Regions from separate parts of the Homo sapiens genome. Here region 2 is linked to region 1. A link means that fine-mapping ties the variant in region 1 to the expression of a gene that starts in the linked region. Tissue or cell type: sigmoid colon. Region 1 holds a variant in brackets; the other region holds the start of a gene. All regions are shown on one strand. Distances are between the middles of the regions.

Region 1 (8,184 bases):
AGGCAAAAGGAACCCAACAGTTACTGTCTTTGATCAGGGCACAGAATATTGCTTTATGCTAAAATGAGACGTTTACGGTGTCTTTACTTATGTGAATTAAGAAACGAGGTCTGTGTTGAATATCATAACGTAAATAAAAGACATTCTTGGATCGTATCATTTTAGGAATGCCTTGTTGCAGGCAAATGTCAACTGCCAGAGAAATGAAGATAGATTGAATGGCCTAGGAGGCGAGCCAGCACTGTGCCAGCCAAGGGCCAAGCCAGCCACCACACAATTCGATCCTGGCCCGGCTTTTCCCTAAGACCGTCCCCGCCGCTCCCCTGTCCTGGTGCTTTAAGGGAGAGCCGTATTTAACACGTGGCTGGTCTCCTATTTGATTCCTGGCTTCCTAATGTTAAATTTTCTTCACCTCGCAAAAACCAGCGTCCTGATTTCTTCTATCTTTCCTGACTAGTCAGGGGTAGATAATTAAGGTTGCATCTAAACCCTTCTCTCTTCCATCTTTCCCAAACATCCATCCACACTACAGGGCAGCAACATCTCATTACGTAGATTGAAGCGTTGGGAAACCAGGTATTGGTCGGTCAAGACAGGCTTGTCTAGGAAGCGACTTGGAGCACAAGCCTGAATTACTGTTGGCAAACTTTGCAACACTGTTCTGTTCCAGGAATAAGGGAGATGATGACCATGTAACTTGGAAAATTTGGTTTGGGGCAAATGATATGCTACATGATACATTTCCTGCTATGGAGAATGGCATGAACAAAAGAGGGAAGAAAGGTAATCCAAGTGGTCTTCAGTAAGAACGCCTTAGCCTCCGAAAGCCTGGTAAGGTTATGTGTTCAGAGTCTGAAATCCACATGCATGAGGCAGATGTTTCAATTTCTGATTTCATTTCAGGATTGTGATGTTGAAAACAAAACTGCTTAGAAATTATTTTTGAGATTTTTATGGTAGGAGGCCTAACTAAGCTGTGACCTCTTGTGGGAAGAAATTTTTAAAAATAGACAAGCGTGAAACTTACAGAAAAAGAATTTTTATTTCTTTGTCCAACAAAGAAGAACTTCTTGTCATCTATTTCTTACCAATTTGGTTTTATCACCATTATTATAATTTTCTTTTAGTTTGGCAGTTAGTATTGTGAACTCTTGGGTAAAGAGGTTTTTGTTTAGAATTATAGCGTTTCTTGGAGCAGTAATTCACACCCGTTCAGCCTTATTTGCATTCACATCGGAAATTTCCAACCAGGACACTTACTTGGGCCAACTTTTTCTGGTCAGTTTTCTGTAGTGTGTTACTTAGCTTGTCTAGAGTCCACTAAAATGCTTTTCAGACATGTTCAGCTGCTGGAAGCTTGTTAATTTTGGGCACATGTAGGACTCTAATTGACATGAAATATAATTTACATATCTGTGATGAATACATTCTTTTTTTTCCATCTATTATCCTGATTTTCTTTTTCCAATAAAGGGCTTATCTTTTACATGTATTTGTATCTAATCAGTATCTAATTCTTCATCCTGTCTCCTGTTTGTTCATTATCATGAGTTCAGCATGGTTTGGTTTATAACTGATTCTCTTTTTTTAAAAAATTTAATTTTATTATTATTATACTTTAAGTTTTAGGGTACGTGTGCACAATGTGCACGTTTTTTACATATGTATACATGTGCCATGTTGGTGTGCTGCACCATTAACTCGTCATTTAGCATTAGGTATATCTCCTAATGCTATCCCTCCCCCCGCCCCCCACCCCACAACAGTCCCCGGTGTGTTCTCGAAGAACTCAACTGGGCAAATACTAGGTCATAGGCATATTTCATGCCTATGTGTGAGGCTTTATTTTATGTGAACAGAGCAAGCACATATTTTATCTTGTCCGGAGATACGTGGGTCATAGAGGTGAAGTTAAAAAAAAAAAGAGAGAGATCCAGATAGAAAAAAAGTTAATATTCCCTCTACTTTTGTGCAGATTTGAAAATTTTTATGATAAAAATGTTTTAAAATATCTCATATATACAGTCAATCCTCATTATTTGCCATTCCATATTTGCAAATTTGCCTGCTTGCTCAAATGTACTTGTAACCCAGATTTCACTATGTTGGCCAGGATGGTCTCAAACTCCTAACCTCAGGTGATCCACCTGCCTCGGCCTCCCAAAGTGCTGGGATTACAGGCTCCAAGTCTTATTTCTATTGTTTCCTTTTAGCTGTGGCAATTGCCATTGCGACCTCCTGGGTAAAGAGGTTTTGTTCCAAATGATCTACAGAGTAAAAGCTAGCAGGTCTATTCTCACTGCCCCGTTCTGAGGTTTCTCTCTCTGATGGGCTGCACTGTCCACAGGATCAGGAAACATGAATCTTCCTGAACTAGTAAGAGTTTATTTATCCCCCAGACCTCACATAGTACCTGGCAGGCAGTAGGTACCCAATTGCATGACTGCATAGAATACTAATGAAATGTACAGTCGTAAAACATGTTAAATTAAAAATCTTACAAAATAAGTAGTGACTAATGTCTAATATAACAGCTGGGAAATGGTACCCGCAGGGCAGAAGCTGTCTTAGATGTTTAGAGACTTAGTATTGGTTACAGAACCTATAAAATGCACAGAAAAATAACCATATACGTCTATAAAACCACACAGATTTCTTGTGATAAATAATAGAGTTTATGGATTTTATTGGTTTGGCAACTGACAGCAATAACTGTAAATAAACAACTGAGGTAACCTTTATTAGTTAGACCAGAATAGTAAAATATTGCCCAGGGGACAGAAAAGCAAAATTTTAAAGCTGATATCCTGGCTTGGGAATTATTTCACAATTAAGGTAACTTCTATCAAGAGGGCAATATTTTCCAGCTGTTCCCTGGAACCTTTACCATTTACATTCTGCTTTGTATTTTTGTTGAGTAATAGAAGCAATTAATTCTAAGCATTATAGTTTATTCTGCATTTGGGCATCACGATTCCGAGGAATGGATTTTTTTTTTTTATCCAGGCAGTTGAACAGGATATAAATGTCATTTTAATAATAGGAACTGAGAATTTAATACTATGGTATTAAACTGTAAGTATAAGTGAATAATACTAGTCCTAGCTCACTTGATTTCCTACAGAATTCTGGCCTATTCATGGAATTTTTATTAAAGGAATGCAGTACTGCAACTTTTTTTTTTTTAAGTAAAGAAGATTTCAACAGAAATGCAAAGGAAAAAAAGGAAGATACACATTGAGATACTTATACAGTTCTTGGTATAAAAAAATTCTCTTTGTCCAAAATATTCAGTAAAAAAACGAGAGGTAAGATGCGGTTTTCTCTTGAAGCATTTCCTTCACTCTTCATGTAACTTGGCTACATCAGTGTATGAATAAATATGGAACTACTTGAGGCCATACTATATATATTTTAAAAACCCAAGAATACTTTTGGAAAAGCCAAAAAGTATCAGCATAAAGTGAAAAATAAAATGAAACAGAAACTTTTCCGACCAAACAGACGTAAGCCAGATGTTAGAGTCTCCCGTGCAAGGAGGGCCGTGTAAGGCCCCTGTAGCTGTGCCGAGTGCATGCTAATGTGGCCAGAGAGAGGTACATGGCTTAAGCTCACTCTCTTTACACATAAAAATGACCGTTTCTCTCTGTTTTATTGTGGCACATTGACGTAAATATGGCTAGCTATGGCAATAAAAATCATGACTAGCTATTTTATAACTCAAGTCAGAATTTTCATTGAGTGAAAGAAAGAGGATATGTTACCAATGAAGAGAGATGTTTGATCAATTAAAATGAAAAACATATTTACTATACTTAACTCCTGTATATTTAAATATTATCCTACTACAAACTTAAAAAGAAAAACTTTTCACTTACTTTTCCAGTGCTTTTTATGTTCTTCCCTTTCTTCTGGGTTTGCTGCCTTCTGCCAACTAAGCCACTATTTAATACACTTTCATTGAAACAAACTTCCGCCCTAACCAATCTGGGATGCAAAGAGAATCACAAGTTTTATTTAGGCACTTTGCGTTTTGGAAATTAAACAGAAAAAAATATCAATATTCTTCTCCCACTGGCACAAACACATTACTTTTCTTTCTTTTTTTAGTTTTTTTCAACAAGGAGGAAAGGAAGATTAAAGAAATGGGATACTCGTAAAAATCTGTTTTCCACAGACATGCCTTATGTGACAGGCTGTGACCTAGAACCACATGCTTTTGGGGCTGTGGGCATGGTGACTATTTCTTGGCAGAAAGACAGATTTCAAGCAAGTACTCACTCTACGTCCACCCAAATAGGTTCCGGAACTTTTTGGCTCATAGGTGTCAAGGTCTTCGTGCACCTGAACCTGTAGAAGGCCGAGGGGAAATACACACAATATTTTTATTATAGGACTGTCCTTCTTGAAACACAGCCTGCAGGGCTCATGGTTTGAATTATAGGGTGTCTCATGTGAGGTTCTCACATCTGGTTTGACAATCATTTTTTCAAAA[G/A]TGTAGTCTTTTGTGAGCTTGTGACGCAAAATGATATGGTAAAATGAACCCAGGCAACTCACAGTTGCTTAAGTTGCAGTAGTTACAAAACTAAGAGAAGGGAAAAATAAAACTGGACAGAGTGCAATGTAATAAAATCTAATATATGAATAGGAGGCATATCTAGTGTCTGTCTACCTGTGGTGGGCTGAATGGCTACTCCCCAGAAGGATATGTCCACATCCTGATCCCTGGAACCTCTGAATGTGACTTTCTCAGGAAGGAGGGTCTTTGCTGACATAATCAGGGGAAGGATCTCAAGATGAGAAGACCATCCTGGATTAGGTGGGTGGGTCCTGAATCCATTGACAAGTGTCCTTATAAGAGACACTTGGAGGAGAGACAGAGAGAAGAGGAAGCAGGAACATGGCTACGGAAGTGGAGATTGGAGTGATGTGGCCACAAGCAAAGGAACACCAGAGCCACCAGAAACTGAAAGAGGGGAGGAACGGATTCTCCCCTAGAGCCTCTGCTCTGGGGGAGTGTGGTCCTGTGGATACCTGAATTTCTGATTTCTAGCTCCAGAACTGTGAGAGAATAGATTTCTGTTGTTTTAAGCCACCCAGTTTATGATACTCTGTTACAGTAACTACAGAAAACTAATTATCTATCTATTGGTCTATCTATCTATCTATCTATCTATCATCTATCTATCTATCATCTGTCTATCTACCTATCTACCTACCTACCTACCTACCTGATATGGTTTGGCCGTGTCCCCACCCAAATCTCATCTTGAATTGTAGCTCCCATAATTCCCACCTGTTGTGGGAGGGGCCCGGTGGGAGGTAATTGAGTCATGGGGGTGGTTTCCCCCATATCGTTCTTGTGGTAGTGAATAAGTCTCACAAGATCTGACAGTTTTATAAGGGGAAACCCATTTTGCTTGGCTCTCATTCTGTCTTGTCTGCCTCCATGTAAGACATGCTTTCGCCTTCTGCCATGATTGTGAGGCCTCCTCAGCCACATGGAACTGTGAGTCCATTAAACCACTTTTTCTTTATAAATTACTCAGCCTTGGGTATAAATTACTCATCTTAATGTCATCAGTGCTTATCTCCTCACTGGGTTGGTTTTTGCCAACCCATTCCTATTTGTTTTATACATATTTCATTATCCCATGTACTCCAGAACAACTTTACCTATTAACTGAAAAAATGATCAATTGTAACCATTCTGAATTTGAGACAATACCTGCTTTCTGCATTCCACTTTATTACGTATATACATATACACTAAAATATGTGCGTATGTAAATACCTGCTTTCTGCATTCCACTTTATTACGTATGTACACATACACTAAAATATGTGCATATGTAAATACCTGCTTTCTGCATTCCACTTTATTACGTATATACACATACACTAAAATATGTGCGTATGTAAATACCTGCTTTCTGCATTCCACTTTATTACGTATATACACATACACTAAAATATGTGCGTATGTAAATACCTGCTTTCTGCTTTCCACTTTATTACGTATGTACACATACACTAAAATATGTGCGTATGTAAATACCTGCTTTCTGCATTCCACTTTATTACGTATATACACATACACTAAAATATGTGCGTATGTAAATACCTGCTTTCTGCGTTCCACTTTATTACGTATGTACACATACACTAAAATATGTGCGTATGTAAATACCTGCTTTCTGCATTCCACTTTATTACATATATACATATACACTAAAATATGTGCATATGTATTAAAGGGAACTTTGTGTTGTTGGATGCCCTCTCCAGTTTCTGGGTTAGTGCTCGAGCCTCAAAGAGAAAGGGACTGTGTGTCTTCGGTCCCTTTACAGCGGCTCTGATGACCAGGCTGTTTACTGATCACAGTTTTCAGGCAGGTCCTTTCGACTTAAATTGAAAGTAAGTCAGAATATGTGTTAACAAAACCAGGAAACCAAAGCCATTCAACAAGATCTGCTTCTATTCCATTATTCTTTAGTTCACTCTGTGATATCGGGCCACATCAAGTCCCTTCAGCCAGCTCCCCAGGAGTTGCTTGGGCCATGTTTTATGTGTCATCTGTCACTAGGTGCTCCCATTCTTAATGTCCCTCTGCACATCTCCTCGCCACCATCCGTGCTGAGTTGTCATTTCATCCATCAGCCACACAGCTCTGATTAGGTTCTGCATCAGGACTCGAAGGGTTTGACTGCCCAGCTCCCCATCCCTACACTGCTGCTAATAGGCCCCCACTTTCCTTCTGGAGACTGTCTCCTCCCCAACCCCACTGCTACACACACACACACACACACACACACACACCTTCACACACACGCACATGCACTCATACATGTACACCTACACACTCCCCACATACCTACACCTCCACATATGCACACACACCCCATGTATGCACACATACCAGTGCATACATATGCACACACACCATGCACACACAAACACACACTCCACGTACACACAAACACGTGCACATACCCAGGCACCCATGCGTGTATGCACACTCCCTGAACACACCCCACACCCACACCCAGACCCTAATACACATACACACATACACCCCTGCATGTACACGGTGCACACACACAAATACCCTATATGTGTGCACCCGCATGCACACTCCCCATCACCACATTCCACACAATTCTCAGGGTCCCTCAACTACTGGGACCAGCCACTGTGGCTGGATAGTGTCCCTGTGACTCATCCAGCACAAGATTCAGACCTAACTGGGGTTCATCAAAGACCTTCCGGGAGATGCCCACGGATGTGGGGGAAAGAGTGGGCACCCTGGTTTTTCTGGGTGTGCTGGAGGCTGAAGGGGTGATGAAAGCCTGGAACTTCCACTGACCATTTTGCCACTGCGAGGAGAGAACTCAGGCAGGAATCAAATGAATTCAGGAAAGTGGAAAGTGGAGGAGGGGCCACAGGAGAGAGGGAGAGAAAAGAAGGGACTGAGAGAAAGAGAAAGGGAAGAGGAGGGAGAAAGAGAATCATCTTCATCTCTGGATCTCACAGGGGGTGAAGCAACTGCTTACCTTGAACTTAAGTCTTGGGAACCAATAGAATCCCTCTTTTGCTTAGGCTAACTTGAGCTGGAATCCCACAACCTGCAACACAAATTGCCCCCATGGATCTGGTTGCTCTCCTGGTTAAGAGAGCATGCCTAAGGCCCATGGTTCTTGGTAAGTTCACCTGTTCCCTATGCACAACCTCAGCATTGCCCTTTAAGCCCCTGTATCTTACAATCCAGTCATCCTGAGTGACTTGCAGCTTCCTGAATACAAAAGGATGTTTCACCCTCAGGCCTCTGTACATTTATTCAGTCATTTATTCCAGAAATATTTACTGAGGACTTATTTTCTAAGCACTGGAGATATAGCAGCAAACAAAACAGAAAACAATTTGCTGCCTTCATGAGGTTTGCGTTTTAGCAAAGGTGAGAAAACAGGATAGGATAGAACTAAAATTAATAAGTAAAATATGGAGTATGTGCAGACAGATCACAGAGGCACCATGTGACCCAGTAACTCCACTCGTAGCTGCACACCCGGGAAAAGTGAAAACATCACATCACAAAAAACTCGTGTTCACAGGAGCGTTATTCATCATGGCCCCAAAGTGGAAACAGCTTCATAGTTCATGGACGGACTGGATGTGGACTGTGAG
Region 2 (8,184 bases), 140 kb before region 1:
CACTTTGGAAAAGGAGTGTGTCAAGAACCGATGGGAGGGGAAGGCTAGAATAAGAAGCCTGACAATACGTACTAGAGATACACAGCAGACAGGACACCCTGGCTGTCCGCACTATTCTCAAGCGGGAATTTGGGACAACCCATTTAAGAGCCCATCTTGGCACAAATGCCATGATAGCCCCAAGTGCCAGAGCAGTGGCATTTGAATCTGAAATCTCTTCTTAGAGTAAGACTATTTATTTCTCTCTGTCTCATAAGGCTCACCACAGTCTGTATAACAAAATGACTTACAGCAACTGCTGAGATCTGGGTTCAGATCTCAGTTCTGACACTCATTAGATGTACGACCTCAGGGAACATATTTAACCTTACTTAGCCAGGGATAAATGGGGATACTTATTATACCTGTCTCTTAGGTAGGGATATACAAAATGCTTAGCAGAGTGAATAGCTCAGTAAGTTCTCAGCCAATATTATTAAGAAAACATACAATAAGGTATGGATTTTCAGACCCCTTGCATTAACACCACAGTGCTCCAGAGATCCTTGATACTCAAGTTGGGAGTCACTGTCCTGGAATACAAATAAAAAACATAAAAGAGCAGTAAATTCCATCTGCAAGTGTTTATGTGGTAGCTACAGAATTCAGCACTATGCTAGGGGTACAGAAGCCAATGCAACACCAAATGAGGAGACAATGCAGAGGGCAGATGCCGGAGGGAAGAAAGAAACACTGGGGCAGAGATTCAACCCAACCTGAAAGCCATGCAGGTGTTTTAAGTTGGAAATGAAATGAGGAACCAAAAAATTCCAGTCAGGGAGTGGTCTGCTGAGTGTGGTGCTTCAGGTAGACTCCCATGACAGGCTGCAGGACAAACTAGAGTGGGGGCCCACTTCCATACCTTCCTGGCCACTCAGTTCCAGCCAAATGACTGCTCTTAAAAGTCAAAATTAGGTTCCATTTCTAATCTGCACTGATTCATACTGCTGGTCGTGTAAATTGGTATAGGCCACACCAACACAGCACATTAGTTAAGATGTTAATCTTAACTAATTTCCGGACAATACTAAAATAAAATCTCTACTTTCCAGAGATTAGGTAAACTTGGTAAACATTTGAGCTTCAGGTCCAGTCTGACAAAATGGAAAAAAGGGAATCATCTGCAGAAAGGTCCCAGCATTAGAAAACAAAGAGAAGGGGGAGGACAGTATGTAGGCCCTGACCTGTCTTACTGCCTCAATTCAAGGATTCAATTTCTCAACCTCAGATCCTTGCCCTCTTACTAGTTTTCAAACTCAGATCCACCTCTTACTAGTTTTCAAACTCTTGTCTATTATGATTACCTTAAGCAAAGCAAGATGCATGAATAACCAGCAGTAAATCAGGTATTCAATACTTGAAATTGTGTAATATTCTGTGACTGTGCATCTGGCCAATTTCAACTTCTCCTTCTTTTTTTTTTTTTTTTTTTTTTTTTTTTTTTTTGAGGCAGGATCTCACTCTCTTGCCCCAGGCTGGAGTACAGTGGTACCATCATTGCTCACTGCAGCAGCCTCAGACTCCCGGACTCAAGTGATCCTCCTGCCTCAGCCTCCTGAGTAGCTAGCACTACAGGTGAGCACCAACATGCCTGCCTCATTTTTTAAATTTTTTTGTAGAGACAACGTCTCAATATGTTGCCCAGGCTGGTCTCAAACTCCTGGCCTCACCTCGAGCAATCCTTCCACCTCTGCACACCGAAGTGCTGAGATTTCAAGTATGAGCCGCTGCCTCCTGCCCACTTAGCCCTTTCTAACACTAGAGAACTTTGAGAGTGGTTTCAATACCAACTGGACACTTCCCAGCGGTTTAACCTCAGGCAAATCAAACTCCCATGCCTCAGTTTCCACATATATAGAGATAATAAAAGTACCTCCTCAAAGAGTTTGTTATGAGAACTAAATGAGTTAATGTTAGGCAAGCGACTGGAACATGATAGACACAATATGTATTAGCCATTATCACCTTTATCTCAGTGTTATATTGGCCACCACCCAGAGATACCCAGGAGCACACACATCACATTCTTTCTACAGCAATATGTGGGCACGATTACTTCATGACCACTGAATCTAAAACAGCACAGCTTGGTAAGACACAGCGGTCGGATCCCACCTACTGCAACACCTCTAAGAGGCGACCCTCACAAACCAGCCATGCTTAGCCTGAGACATTCCGAAGACCTCCTCTTGATTACCTTACTCGACGAACTTATTCCTTTGAAAATGGAACTAGCCGCACTTTTGGACCAGTGTGCCTCGGATACACTTCCAAATGTGTCAACCTGAATCTCAGAAGTTGGCGTGATTTTAAAAAGTTTTTTAAGTTCTTTTTCCTAAACATGTCCTAGTAGGTGACTCCACAGCATTACTTTCTTTCATGTTCTCTTTTCTATCTGGAAATCCGGTGATAGGGGACGAAACCAGCAAAGCACCCTTTTTCTTGCTTCCCAAACGTTAGCAGGTAAGCGCCCCTTGAGCCGAGACACATCAAGAAGACCTCACCCGCAAGTTCATTGATCACCGGTTCTTTTCCCTTTCCGGCACTAGGAGCTGCGAAGCACGACATGGGCTTGGAGGAAGAGACGCTGCGGTCACCTGAGGGGCAGGTGAGAGCGGGCGGTCCTGCCCGGGTGTGAGCGCGACATCCCGCGCGGCACACACGCTCACAGCCCCCAGAGAAAGACCAGAGGCGCTCGATGTATCCCGCACACCCCACACGCAACACACTAACTGCACCGTACCTTCCGTCCCACCTCCCGGCAGCAGACCCCTTCCGGGACGCCGAGAGGGCTGTTCCTGGAGAGACCGCAGCCCACGAGTAGCGGCGCGTAGGGAGAGCACGCGTGCCCAGGCTGCCTCGGCCGGCGCGCCCCCGCCCCCGCACTCACCTGGCCTGTGATACCGGTGATGAGCGCCACGTTCCTGGGCTTGCCCATCTCGCCGTCCCCGGAGCCCCGGGCGCTGGGGCAGCGTGCCGGTGCGTGTGCCATGTCCCGCGGCGGGCGTGCGGTCGGCGGCAGGGCGGAGCGCGGCAGAGGGCAGGCGCGGTGCCGGCAGGAACGCGGGGGTGTGCAGCACGAAGCGCCTCTCCAGGCTGCGGGCAGGGAGGGAGAGCGCACCGCGCGACCGGCCGCCACAGTCTGACAGGGGCGCACGGGAGGCCGTGCAGGGAGGGCCGGGGGCGGGCCGAGCCGGCCAAGGCGGGCCCGACGGGCCAAGCAGCGGGGCTGCGGCCTGACTGGCGCAGCGTCATTCGCGTCAGCCGGCGACGCTGTAGCAGGCCCCGCCCCTCCGCCGACGGCCACCGCGCGGGAGGGGCGGGGCCTGCCGCCGCCACCGCCTCAGGGAAGAGGAAGGAGGCCGCGGCTTCGCGTCCCGCCTCTCGCCTGGCTGGCCGTGGGGGGCCTGGACGCAGTGGCCTCCCGAATCTCCCAGGACCCTAATATCGCCCGAGGATGCTGGGAGGAACGCTGAGCCGACCTCTCCGTTAGGCTGAAGGTCTGAATTTTCAAACCCAGGGGTCACAGGGCCGGGGTCATGGACTTTGATAAATAATTCCTGGAAACCTGTTGCAGTGCCCTTTGAGAAGCCCGGTTTATGGTACCTGAAGGGCAGTAGCGTACAAGGCCCGTAAACGGGGGTCACAGATGTGGGAGTGACTAACTAGGCTGGCTCTCGCTCTTCTGGCCTTTCCTGAGGCTCGGAACCAGTAACGAGGTTCCAAATAGCTGAATTCAAAGTTTTCTCTTCTGAGGACTGCCAGTGCACAAGAAAGTCCCTAGCCCCACCCGTATGCGGCATAAGGAAATGTTGAAAAGACTGCCCGGGTCAATAAACCTGGACGTGGCAGATTTCAAAGAAAGTAATTCAAACACAGGTGGGGTCCCGGCTTACATCTGTTGGATTTGGCTGCCATTTGGCAGCTGCTCGTTGGACAGGGAGAGGAGAGGAGGTGACTCAGAGCCGGGAGGGCAGCAGGTGTGTGTGCCTAAGCAGTTGGCTGCAATCCAGGACACAGACGGAAACTTCCCGGTCTCCGTTGCTCTGCTTCTCTGTCCACATTCCTCTCCCTAATCGATAACTTCAGATCATCATTTCAAATCACAGAGTTACTAGGGCTGTGCCCAATATAACGTGCAAGAGTATGTATAGCAGACCTGGAACCCCAAAATCAGAAAAGCTCAGGATTACATTTAAAACCTCCCTCTCGCGCTCCTCGAGGTCCGTTAGGAATATTTCTTAGCTATAGATAGACTGGTCTGGTTTCACACCTGGCCTCTCCTCTGCGTTCTATGAGGAGAATGGCTCAACAAACATCTGATGGTGCCTCTGAGTGATGAAGAGACCCTGAAGCTGAGGAGAGGGAACACTTCCATTGAGAGGAACATGCTATAAGCTAGAAATGTCTGTGAAATATACGGGAATATGCTAAAACTATACTCATTTTCATGTAAATACGCTTTAAATTAATGCATGAGCCAATTATTTAACATTTTCCTTAAAAAAATCACTGAGCAAGCCGGGCGCAGTGGCTCACGCCTGTAATCCCAGCACTTTGGGAAGCTGCGGCAGGTGGATCACCTGAGGTCAGGAGTTCAAGACCAGCCTGGCCAACACGGTGAAAACCCGTCTCTACTAAAAATACAAAAAATTAGCCAGGCGTGGTGGTGGGCACCTGTAATCCCAGCTACTCTGGAGGCTGAGGCAGAAGAATCGCTTGAACCCGGGAGGAGGAGGTTGCAGTGAGCCGAGATCTTGCCATTGCGTTCCAGCCTGGGCAAGAAGAGCAAAACTCCATCTCAAAAAAAAAAAAAAAAAATCACTGAGCAAAACTGATACTTATGGGAGATATGACACATTTATCCTGTAGTTTTGAGACCTCCTATCACACAAACACTGGAAGTTGACACCAGTCAATTTCCTGTCACACCACCAAACACCTGCCCTAGAAGTGTGTGACAGTAGAAGAAAAATGGAAAAAAAATCAACATTATTAGGGCCTGAAAATATTTATAAAATGATGGGAAATGGTAGGTCAGAGGAAGCTTGAAGAATAAAGGCTATTTCTCTAGAGAACTTTTCTGAAGACAGGTGGTAGGTCTGCTACAGCAACGTACCATCCATAGGGTGACAAACGATAGAAATTTATTTCCTCACAGTTCTGGAGACTGGAAGTTTAGGATCAAGGGCTGATTTCTTCTGAGGCCTCTCTCCTTTTCTTGTAGCTGGCTGTCTTCATGTTCACATGGCGTTCTCTCTGTATGTGTGTCTGTGTCCAAACTTCCTGTTCTTATAAGAACACCAGTTACATTTGATTAGGACCCTCTTTAATGACCTTATTTCCAAATACAGTCACATTTTGAGCTACTAAGAGTTAAGACATCAATATATTAATTGGGGGAGGGACAAAATTCAACCCATGATTGACAGCTAGAGGGAAAAAGAGGTTCTTTTTTTTAACTGTTTGTGGGCTCGGAGGGAGGAGGTTGGTAGTGGAGGTTGTTGTCATTTTCCCAGTAGCATTAGGGCAACTTGAACAACGTCAGCACAGGGTCTGGGGCAGCATAAGAAGATTACATTAACTAGAAGTAAAGCGACCAGCGGTAGTGGAAAGCTCTAAGGGTGATGGCTCAGTTGTGTTTTCCTCTAACACAGTTCTCATCCCTGGGTGATTTTGCCCCCAGGGGACATTTGACAATGTCTGGAGGCATTTTTGATTGTCACAAATGGAGTTGTGCTATAGGTATCTAATGAGTAGAGGTTAAGTATTTTGCTCACCATCTGCAGTGCACAGGAAGCTCCCACAACAAAGATTTTTCTAGCCCAAAATGTCAATAGTGCTGAGGCTGAGTAACCCTTCTCCAGGAGGCCAGTGAAAGATGTTAACAAGCGGGTGGTTGAACTGACAGACACTGGCTATACTATACAGTGACTTCATGGTATGTCAGAAGAAGCAAATACATTTGGTAGCTAATTGTTGATGCTGATACCTTTACTCACAAACTTGGCTAATCTCCAGAAACATACTAGCTGCTGAGGGTATAGCAGTAGAGGAGAAATAATCTTCAAGGGGCTATAATCTGAAAGGGATATGATATTGAATCATTTTATGACTTTTCATAACATTTTCATATTTGTTTTAATATGATACAAAATATAGAGAAAAGAGTGAGGCCTCCAACTCCAAGTCCTCTAATTGGATAAAAGTCAATCATTCTGTACAAGACTAAATATGTGGAATAACATTTTTCACTTCTTTCTTTCCCATCTCTTGCCACTGAGTGCATGCCAGTTATTCAAGAACGATTCTCCAGCATTCCCTTTAAAATTCTCTCTCCTCTCCTTTTTTAAACATTTCTTTCCTTTGCTTTTCACATGGAACATTTGCTGATCTTCTTTCTCAGATTGCACAAACCATGCTAATGGCCAGCATGGATGGAGGGAGCGTGTGAGATGTGTGGGGCAGCGTGCTGCATCTCAGCCAACTCCAGGAGGTAAGTGCGTCTGCTGTGGTGAAATCTATATTTGGTCTTCATTTCTGTTTTCCTGGCATATGATTTCTAAAATGCTTAGAATCACCAAAGCGATGTATTTTGTAGGGTAATGAGTGAGTTCACTGTTGGCTGGCAGCCCTTAGGTGGCTTCAGGGTGGAAACTGGTCATTGTAAAGACCAATGCAGGATTAGAGGGCTGGGACTTTCAGCCCCATCCCCTAACCTCCAGGGAGGAGAGAGAAGCTGATGGTTAAGTTGATCACCAACGGCCAACGATTTAATCAATCATGCCGACATAATGAAGCCTCCATAAAAACCCAAAAAGGACTGTGTGCAGAGAGTTCTAGATAGTTGAACACGTGGAGGTACATGGAGGGTGACGCTTCAGGGTGGGCACCAAAGCTCCAAGCTCCTCCTATTCCTTGCCCTGTACATCTCCTCATCTGCATCCTTTGTCATATACTTTGTCATACCAGTAAACTGGTAATCCTGAGTAAGAGATTCCCTGAGTTCCGTGAGCCACTCTTTCAGATTAATAAACCTAAGAAGGGGGTCACGTGAAGCCCACTTTTTGGCCAGTCAGAAGCACAGGTAGAATAACCTGGGGCTTGCAATTGGCATCAGAAGTTGGCGGGGGCACAGTATTGGGGACTGAGCCCTTGACCTGTGGGATCTGATGCTATCTCCAAGGAGACAGTGTCAGAGTTGAATGGAATTGAAGGGCACCCAGCTGGTGTGCCCTATAGAATTGATTGCCTGCTTGTGGGTGGGAAGAAATCCCATGCATACTTGGTCACAGAAGTCTTCTCTGTTGATTGGTGTTTTGTTAGAGCAGGGGAAAAACAATTTGAGTTTGTCCACACTCAGTATGATAATGATCTTTATTTCATAGAGTCAGAAACTGAGGATTGGAAACATTAATAAACTCGCCCAAGGCCACATAGCTAGTGGCTGGTTATGGTAGATATTATGCTCATTCAACTCCCATTCCATACTCTCTTTGGAAAAATTAGAGTGCTCAAAGCCACATGTCCCAGACCATTTTGCATCTCATATATAGGAAGCAAATTGAGCTTTGTCAATTAGATGCGTTCCTGCTCAATCTGGCAGGTGGAAGTGAAACAGAAGCCATCCTTCTGCTTTCTGGTCCAACTGACATGAGGATTAACGGCAGTTAGAGTCCAAGTTTGGGTCTAGTCACCGTTTTCATGGGCATGAGAGCCACTTGGGTTGGGGGAGCAGCATGGCAGCAGGAGTGGTTTTCTGAATTCTGGCCTTCAGCTATGGTGGTAATGTCCTGACATCAACAACTGAAGGCCCTCCGAGTTCTCTTCCTCTGTCTCATAAATATTTTTTTCAACTAATAATTGTAGATTCAAATGTATTTTTAAGAAATACAGTGAGTGACATGGTCATGTCTTCAAATACTATAGAGCAATAGCACAAGCAGCATATTGGCGTTGATAGAATTCACCAATCTCATTCAGATTTCCTCAGTTTTTGTACTCATTTGTGCAAGAGTATGTGTATTTACTTGTGTACCGTTTGGTTTGGTTTGTTTTGCCTGAGACAAGGTCTCACTCTGTCATCCAGACTCACTTGCAGCCTCAACCTCCTGGGCTCAAGCCGTCCTCCTGCCTCAGCCTTCT

What was found. PIP is the estimated chance that this variant, and not a neighbour inherited with it, causes the effect.
Region 2: GMDS-DT starts here. The variant in region 1 is fine-mapped to the expression of GMDS-DT in sigmoid colon (GTEx, PIP 0.98).

What each region holds. Positions count from the first base shown.
Region 1 is chr6:2,382,184-2,390,367 of GRCh38, forward strand. The region is part of intron 4 of GMDS-DT (GMDS divergent transcript); the gene reads left to right. Among named protein-coding and RNA genes, the nearest start is that of GMDS-DT, 140 kb to the left of the region's middle. The variant G/A (reference allele first, on the strand shown) is at 4,496.
Region 2 is chr6:2,242,392-2,250,575 of GRCh38, forward strand. GMDS-DT (GMDS divergent transcript) reads left to right here and starts at 3,362. Exons shown (of 7, transcript NR_046229.1): 1 at 3,362-3,539; 2 at 6,446-6,535. It overlaps GMDS (GDP-mannose 4,6-dehydratase), which reads right to left and starts at 3,214. Exons shown (of 11, transcript NM_001500.4): 1 at 2,930-3,214. The coding sequence starts at 3,031. RefSeq lists an enhancer at 2,856-3,356 and a silencer at 2,857-3,486.